Linked DNA regions of Homo sapiens: all the other regions are linked to region 1. The links come from fine-mapping of genetic effects on gene expression. A gene starts in region 1. Each other region holds a variant in brackets. All regions are shown on one strand. Distances are from middle to middle.

The links. PIP is the estimated chance that this variant, and not a neighbour inherited with it, causes the effect.
Region 2: its variant is the best candidate, but not a certain one, in a credible set for the expression of YEATS2 in whole blood (INTERVAL, PIP 0.58).
Region 3: its variant is the best candidate, but not a certain one, in a credible set for the expression of YEATS2 in whole blood (TOPMed, PIP 0.68).

The regions. Positions count from the first base shown.
Region 1 is chr3:183,696,565-183,699,324 of GRCh38, reverse strand. It overlaps YEATS2 (YEATS domain containing 2), which reads right to left and starts at 1,528. Exons shown (of 31, transcript NM_018023.5): 1 at 1,332-1,528. RefSeq lists a silencer at 1,154-1,623.
Region 2 is chr3:183,808,248-183,811,007 of GRCh38, reverse strand. It overlaps YEATS2 (YEATS domain containing 2), which reads right to left. Exons shown (of 31, transcript NM_018023.5): 30 at 1,838-1,911; 31 at 1-533. The coding sequence ends at 425. YEATS2-AS1 (YEATS2 antisense RNA 1) reads left to right here and starts at 557. Exons shown (of 3, transcript NR_046727.1): 1 at 557-989; 2 at 2,156-2,278. RefSeq lists an enhancer at 175-1,374. The variant A/G (reference allele first, on the strand shown) is at 1,178.
Region 3 is chr3:183,721,592-183,724,351 of GRCh38, reverse strand. YEATS2 (YEATS domain containing 2) reads right to left here. Exons shown (of 31, transcript NM_018023.5): 5 at 2,216-2,461. Among named protein-coding and RNA genes, the nearest start is that of YEATS2, 25 kb to the right of the region's middle. The variant G/A (reference allele first, on the strand shown) is at 1,449.

The DNA of each region.
Region 1 (2,760 bases):
TTTAATACATCTAAAATAGAATTCGTTTTTCCCACCTCAAATTTCTCTCTTCCATTCTTCATCTCAGTAAACAGCACCACCACCTACTCAGTTGCTCAAAACAAAAATCAAAAAAGCAAAGATTCCCACCATTCCCTCACCAATCCAAGTCTTGTTCATTCTACCTTAAAACATTTAAAAATCTGTTTATACTTCCCCATCTCCCTGCCACGGGCCTAGTCCAAGCTACTGCAAAGAGCACAGTAACTGACCTCGTAGGTTCCTCCCCAGCCCTCTTCCTCTACATAGCAGTCGGATCATGCTACTCGCCTTCTCAAAACCTTCAAAGGCTTCCCGGGAAAAACTAAACTCCTTATCAGGGCATCATCTGCCCTATCTTTTAAAGAGTATACACAAACAGGAATATACATCCAAGGGTAGTATCTCTAGATCGTAAAACTGCGGGCATTTTTCTCTGGCTTTGCTTGTATTTTTAAATTTTTCTACGCTGAATACCCTCTACTCATTAAGAAAGGGGAAATGATATTGCTGAATTCTATATAATATTATACCGCATTTTTTACATGTGAGCGAGAAAAGGGAATGGAAAACGTGGGTCAACTCTGTAACTGCTGAATGCTTAGATGAAAATACTAGCCAACATCAAACTAAAAAAAAATGATGTGTCAGGCCTGTAAGATTGCTGATGGCATTTCTCTTCCTCTGGTTTCTATTTCTTAACATAATCACATTCATGATGGAGAAAACCTCATTGTCTTCTGCAGTCTGGCCACAGCCCTTCAAGCCAGCCTTTCCTGCAGGAGTCCTCACTTTCCGAGGCTTCCACTCCGCCCCGCACTGCCCGCAGCTCCGGCGCGTTGGCCCCGGCCCCATCCCTGGACCCCCAAAGCCTCTCTGACCCCTCCCCTCCATCCCAGGGAGGCCCGGTGGGGATGGCGACAGGTTGGAGGGGCATTCCAGGATCCTTTCGGTAAACCCACGACTTTCTGGTGCTGGGGCCAAATCTTGCCTCCAAGGCCAAGAGCTTAACATCCTAAAAGCTCCGGCCGCTGTGGCTCGGGGTCCCGTATCCCCTCAGCGCAGCGCCCCGCTGAAGAGGAAGCCCCCAACTCACGTTCCAATTCCAGGCTCCCGCTTCTGCGGCTCCCCGGCCCGCACCTGGGATCCTCCCTGCCCTCCCCTCGGCCCCGGGGCCTCACCGGGTCCCGCTGCCGCGCTGCCTGCCGATGGGGGAGGGGCGCGCACGTGCCCGCGCCGCCCCCGCCCAAACAATGCCCCGGAGAGCGGGGCGCGCTCCCGGCCGGTCCCTTCCTGCGCCCGCCAACACTCACCCTTTCTCCGGGTCTCCGGCTGCAGCGCGGGCCCCGCCGGCCGCCGCGAGAGAGCACGGCGAGGTGAGAGAGCGGGCGAAGCCCCGCGGAGCTGCCCCGCCACAAGGCCCCAGCGACCCCCGCAACCTGCGGAAGCACACGGCGCGGTGGAGCCCGCCCGGCGCGTTCCGCCCCGCACGTCAGCAGCTGGGCGCGTCGGGGCGCGCGCGGCGGCGCGCGCGGCCTCGGGGCGGAGCTCCCAGGGATGAGGGCGGGGCGGGGCGGGGCGGGGCTGGTCCGGGCTGGGACCCCGGCCCGCGAGGGCACTTCCTGGGCAGTGTGGGCGTCGATTCTTGCAAAGGCACAGTCGTCCATCACTTTCCTGCCCCAGAAGATGGCGAATTTCAACCCCAAGTTTGACAGAATATTCATTCTGCCGGCGTGTATGAGCTTCCCTATTAATCACAATAGTGACTATGATGTTTGTGTGTGCCATCTTTGTGCCAACCCATGTGCTAAGTGCTGGGTATACAAAATAACAGTAGTTATTTCTAGCCCATTTTACAGATGAAGAAACTGAGGCAGGGAAGGCTTGAGACTTATCTCAGTCACACTAGCTAGTGACAATCCAAGTCCAGTTTTCCACCTAAATATCACTTGAGGCCAACATTCTCTTTCGTTGTAACTCTACCACCCTACCCAAGACCCTGTAATCTCTCTGCCCAAGACTATGAATAGCCTCCCAACTGGTCTTGGGGAACTTCTGTTCCCCTTCAATCCCTTCTCACTGTATAACGATTTACTACTGGAGCTGAGTGGTGGGTTTAGGAAGTTCACTTTTTTTTTTATACTTTACATACATGTTACCAAATTTTTAATGTATTTAATGTTTTTATCAACGCATAATAAATATAAGTGGTGTTTTGTTTTTTGTGTTTTTTTTTTTTTTTGAGATAGAGTCTCCCTCTGTTGCCAGGCTGGAGTGCAGTGGCATGATCTTGGCTCACTGCAGCCTCCGCCTCCCGGGTTCAAGCGATTCTCCTGCCTCAGCCTCCCAAGTAGCTGGGATTACAAGGCGCGCGCCACCACGCCTGGCTGATTTTTGTATTTTTAGTAGAGACAGGGTTTCACCATGTTGGCCAGGCTGCTCTCGAACTCCTGACCTTAGGTGATCCACCCGCCTCAGCCTCCCAAAGTGCTGGGATTACAGGCGTGAACCACCACCCCCAGGCTAATTTTGGTTTTTTTAGACAGGTCTCACTATCACCACAGCTAGTCTCACACTTCCGGGCTCGAGAGATCCTCCTGGCTGGGCACGGTGGCTCATGCCTGTAATCCCAGCACTTTGGGAGGCTGAGGCGGGCGGATCACCTGAGGTCAGGAGTTCAAGACCAACCTGGCCAACATGGTGAAACCCCGTCTCTACTAAAAATACAAAAATTAGCCAGGT
Region 2 (2,760 bases), 110 kb before region 1:
CTGCTGGAGCTACTGGTAACTCCAGCCCACAAAATGGGTGAAATCTCTAGCCTGCCACTCATTTTCTACCTCCTGGGGAGGCGGGCCCAAGGAGCCCCCTTAAGCACACCCAGGGAGAAGGGCCTGAGGCACACGGCCTGGCCCGCTCTCGTGGGGCCTTTACAAAGACTGCAGAAACGCTGGCCGACAAAGCACGGATCCACTGACAGCCTCACTCCACACTCAGGAAACAAACTCCTGTCCTAGGAGGATTTCATCTGGAGTGCAGCGTGCTGGTGACACGTGGGAACAGGCAGCGGCAAAGGTTGGGTAGCCATGACATGCCGAGTCACACTGGAAACCACCTCCTTCCCGAGCAGCAGGGTCCTCAGTTACAGCTTCGCTGTGCCTTCAAAGCCTGCTTCTCCAGGGCACCTCACTCCGCTCACTGGTCCTCATTCAATATTCCCATGTGTTTGTTTGTGAGGAAGTCCAGAAAAGGAATGTTGCAAATGGCCTGGTGAATATTACTCACTGTAATTTCTTTGGGAATCCTGGTCCAAAAAACAAAGGGTGTTACCAGGTGAAATTCTCTCACGTATATCTCATCATTTATTCACTTAACTCATCACAGGGACCATCCCAGGCAGAGGCCCCGTGGAGAGGGCTCCTGAGCCACAGACATAGCTTAGGGCCACTCTGGGGTGAGGACTGCCTTCCTGTCATAGGCATGAGAAGGATGTCAACAAGTTGGTTGAATAATTAGGAAAAAAGATTCTGAGAACTGAGAAAAGAGAAAGAAAACAAAGCGGATGGCAGAACGGAATGACACATTTGTGAGTGAGTCTCAGCAGACCGAAAGCTGAGTCAAAGCACCACAAAACTCTGGGACCTTATTTCCCATCTCCTAGAAAGACGGGAGACGGAGCCACGCCAGGCCAGGCGTGATGTTAATCGTTCCATCAAAAGCACCTAAGTCACTCTACCCCTCCAGGACAGGGAGCACAGAGGTAAGCAGGGGCCACAGGAGGCCCTGGCTCACTTGTGGGTCCAAGCAGGACAGTGGGCAGCAGGACCGGAACTCTTGGTTCCCCTTCCTTTTCTCTAAAGACGCCTATGTTGTCTGATATATTCCTGTGAAGTTTCATCTACTATTCCTCTGATTTAGGCCCTTCATGTCCTCAGGCACTTTGCTACA[A/G]TTTTATAAATCTGTGACAGCCTTTAGCATAATGCAATAAAATAATATTTGTTTCCTCCGAAAGAAAAGCAGATGTGGCCTATCTACCATCCTTTCAGGGCCTAGGAACAGACTGAAACTCAGTGTCTTAATCAAAGACAACGAGTCAGCAAAGAGCAGTGGCGAGCCCAGGGGCCTCAGAGCCAATGAGACCTGAGTCGGAAGTCCAGGTCTACACTGTATTTGCTGGGTAAGCTGGGTAAAATTACCTTTCAAAGCCCGGTTTCCTGATTTTTAAAAAGAGAATAATAGTTCTGCAATGAAAAACAAATTAGGTAATATATGCAACGCTTGGCCCTCGTGTCTGACATGTAATGGACACTGTTATCTTTAATTGCAAAGCTAATATTTATTCAACCCTGTAATAAAACAGAGTCCTAGGTGTCTGTGAAGTAATGAGGAGGATATAAACCTCTGAGCAAAGCTGAGTGAGCTTTCACAACCATGAGGTTCTCTAAAAATGACAAAGCAGACCCTTGAGCTCATCTGGCTCTAAGAGTGTCCTAAGCACTCACTCCATCTCCTACTGGATTGATGTAAGTATAAAACACCTTCATGGGCAATTCAACTGTTAGGAAAGAGGTGTAAGCCTCACACCACAGACTGCAGAGATAGTAATACCTGTTGTGAGAAGCTGTCTGGTATCCAACTGCCAAAGCCTGTCTCAGGATATCATTCACCAGCTGTTCTGTAGCCTACAATGGAAGATGCTGTTATTCTTCAAATGGCCATCTGCTTGCTGGCAAGAAGGGACACATTTAACCCCATCCCTTACCCCAAATGTTTGAAACCACTGCAACTAGGGATTAAAAAGTCCTTAAGAAAAAATTAAAGGCCTCAATAATAGACCATAATGATAAAGGCCATGATTCTGAGAAATTATGAATTGGAGTGATTTTCATTAATCAGACATTATTCTATTTATTTATTTATTTTGAGATGGAGTCTCACTCTCGCGCCCAGGCTGGAGCGCAGTGGCGCGATCTTGGCTCAGTGCAACCTCCGCCTCCCGGGTTCAAGCGATTCTCCTGCCTCAGCCTCCCAAGTAGCTGGGATTACCAGGTGAGCGCCACCAAGCCCAGCTAATTTTTTATTTTTAGTAGAGATGGGGTTTCACCATGTTGGCCAGGCTGGTCTCCAACTCCTGATTGCAAATGATCCACCCGCCTCGGCCTCCCAAAGTGCTGAGATTACAGGCATGAGCCACCGCGCCCAGCCCTAGACATTGTATTTAAGGAAAGCAGTTGTTACGGAGGTATCCCTATTCTTGGAGAGGATCCACGAGGAAAGGAACTGCTGAGCTAGGATCAGGCTGGGGAAGGAGGCTGCGGCATTTTCGTCCCCTTGCCAGGGTCAGGACAGTTGGGGCTGTTTGCTGTTGTGACGTGTACAGAAAACCATAGGCTTTGTCTCTGCCACCTCCTAAAGCAACGAGCACACTGACCACCACCCCCAGAATACGTCTTAGGAGGCACCTGAAACCACATGACTCAGAGGAAACATAACTTAGTCCATTTAAAAATCAGAAGGAAAAAAAACAAAAA
Region 3 (2,760 bases), 25 kb before region 1:
ATTGTAAAAAGTATAAATGGAATAACTAAGTTTTTTTAAAAAATTACAAAATTTTCTGGCTTTGTAGCACCTCTCAAAGCATTAAAAAAGTTACTATAAATGCTGCCTTAATTTATACAAAGTTTATATACTGTAACTCCCGGTGTGTTTTTAATAGTCACATACATCTGCTTTGAATATGCAAATAGGATTTGGAAGGATACACAAAAAACTATTACAGTGGTTACTTCTGGGAAACAGGAATAGAAAGAGAGAAAGGGGTCAATGGAATTTACCCTCTTTTTAACCTTTTATAATATTCAAAACTGTTCAATGAGAAATAAGTGCCTGGTACATAGTAAATGCTAAATGTTTGCTATATAAATACATATAGAAATGATCACATATTGTATAAAACATGTTAAGTTTCTATGACCATTATGCCCTAAATTCTATTTTTTGAGACAGAATCTCGCTCTGTCAACCAGGCTGGAATGCAATGGCACGATCTCGGCTCATTGCAATCTCCGCCTCCTGGGTTCAAGCGATTCTCCTGCCTCAGCCTCTCGAGTAGATGGGATTACAGGTACCCGCCACTAAGCCCAGGTAATTTTTGTATTTTTAGTAGAAATGGAGTTTCACCATGTTAGTCAGGCTGGTCTCAAACTCCTGACCTCTGGTGATCCCCCACTTGGGCTCCCAAAGTGCTGGGATTACAGGCGTGAGCCACCACGCCCAGCCTCCTAAATTCTTTTTAACTAAAAAAAAGAAAAACACATGTAATATTTGCTCAGGAATAATACTGGAAAGGTAAGGTAAATCCAAACAGTGAAGAGTTCTGATTTTGGGGGTGGCAGCCTCACGAATGAACTTTTCTATTCTTTTTTACTTTTCTGTATTTAACAATTTTCAAAAAATGAACACATATGAATTTATAATCTGAAAAATAAATACAAACATATTTTTATCAAAAATAAATCAAACCCTTGACATCTAAGTATGTGGAAAGTAACTTGGAAATTTTCTGTATCACAGTCAACACCTGGCTGAGAAAAATCGCTGCTCTAATCCAATAATGACTCTATAGCCAAATATTTTTCAAGAAGTTCAGAGTAGCTTGAGATGGGAGCTCAAATTACAAACTGGCATGATCAAAGAGCAATGTTTTTCAATTCTGTTTATTTGTCAAATTTCCTCCATCTACTAAAGTACTAAAGCATCTTAGAATATAAAGTCTCACAGAGGAAACCGTTGAAGAACGGCTGCTCTCGAGAGAATAAACACGACAGAGTTGAAAGACCTTGAGCAAGATCACGGAATTGCCGAGCTAGAAGGTTTCTTTCACACCTACGTAAACAGCATCCAGGAGCTGTGCTGTGCACAGAATCTCCAGGCTGTAAAATTAGAAACACTCAGGTTTAAGTCGGGCGCGGTGGCTCACGCCTGTAATCCCAGCACTTTGAGAGGCC[G/A]AGGCAGGCAGATCATGAAGTCAGGAGTTCGAGACCAGTCTGGCCAACAGGGTGAAACCTCGTCTCTACTAAAAATACAAAAAATTAGCCAGGCGTGGTAGCACATGCCTCTAATCCCAGCTACTTGGGAGGCTGAGACAGGAAAATAGCTTGAACCTGGGAGACAGAGGTGGCAATGAGCCGAGATTGCGCCACTGCACTCCAGCCTGGGTGATAAAGCGAGACTCCGTCTCAGAAAAAAAAAAGAAACACTTAGGTTTAATTCGCAGTTCTGACACTTTTGGGCAAGTAAAACCAAATCAAGATTTGGTTTCCCGCTGGGCGCAGTGGCTCACGCCTATAATCCCAGCACTTTGGGAGGCCGAGGCGGGAAGATCACGAGGTCAGGAGATCGAGACCATCCTGGCTAACACGGTGAAATCCCGTCTCTACTAAAAATATAAAAAAATTAGCCGGGCGTGGTGGCACACACCTGTGGTCTCAGCTACTCAGGAGGCTGAAGCAGGAGAATGGCGTGAACCCGGGAGGCGGAGGTTGCAGTGAGCCATGATCCTGCCACTGCACTCCAGCCTGGGCAACAGAGCAAAACTCTGTCTCAAAAAAAAAAAAAAAAAAAAAAAAAAAAGATTTGGTTTCCCCATTATAAAAGGAAAACAAACCTATTTCCTAAGATTCCTGTGACAGTTCAGTGAGATAACAAGCGCATACTTTAGTAAATATAGTTCCCTTCTCCTGTGGCTCCCTCCCACATCCACCCATCTATATACCCTTCCAGTATTTCGGCTTGGTCTCTGCTCCATGTTGTTTGAGAGTCTTTCCTCTATATCCATATTGCTGTTATTATCTTTGTCAGATAAGAAGTCATTGTGCTGAGATAAAGAATCACTTTCTGAATGATTGGCTGATGGTGTTTCTGCTCTCTGATTGGCAGGAGATGATGACCTAGATGGTGATTCCAAAAATTTCTTGATAGCAGGATGATTAAAAACCATTGTATCACATGTCTTTGATCCCTACAAAAAATGAAAGCAAGCAAATAAATTTTTAATCAAATCCATCAAAAGCAGGCAAAAATCTGATCTCTCCAAAACCTTATCTATTACAGGATCATGCTTAAAATCTTTCAAAATCTCCCCACATCCATAAAATGATATCCCAACCCCTTAGCACAGCCTGAACCAACCAAACAAAAACTAGAATGATGAATAATTATGTAAAGTTTCTAACACTAACAGCTAGAGATGTAGGGTCTTCCGGAGGTAAATGAGAAATAATATATGTTAACACAGAAAATAAAATCTGACTTTAAAAG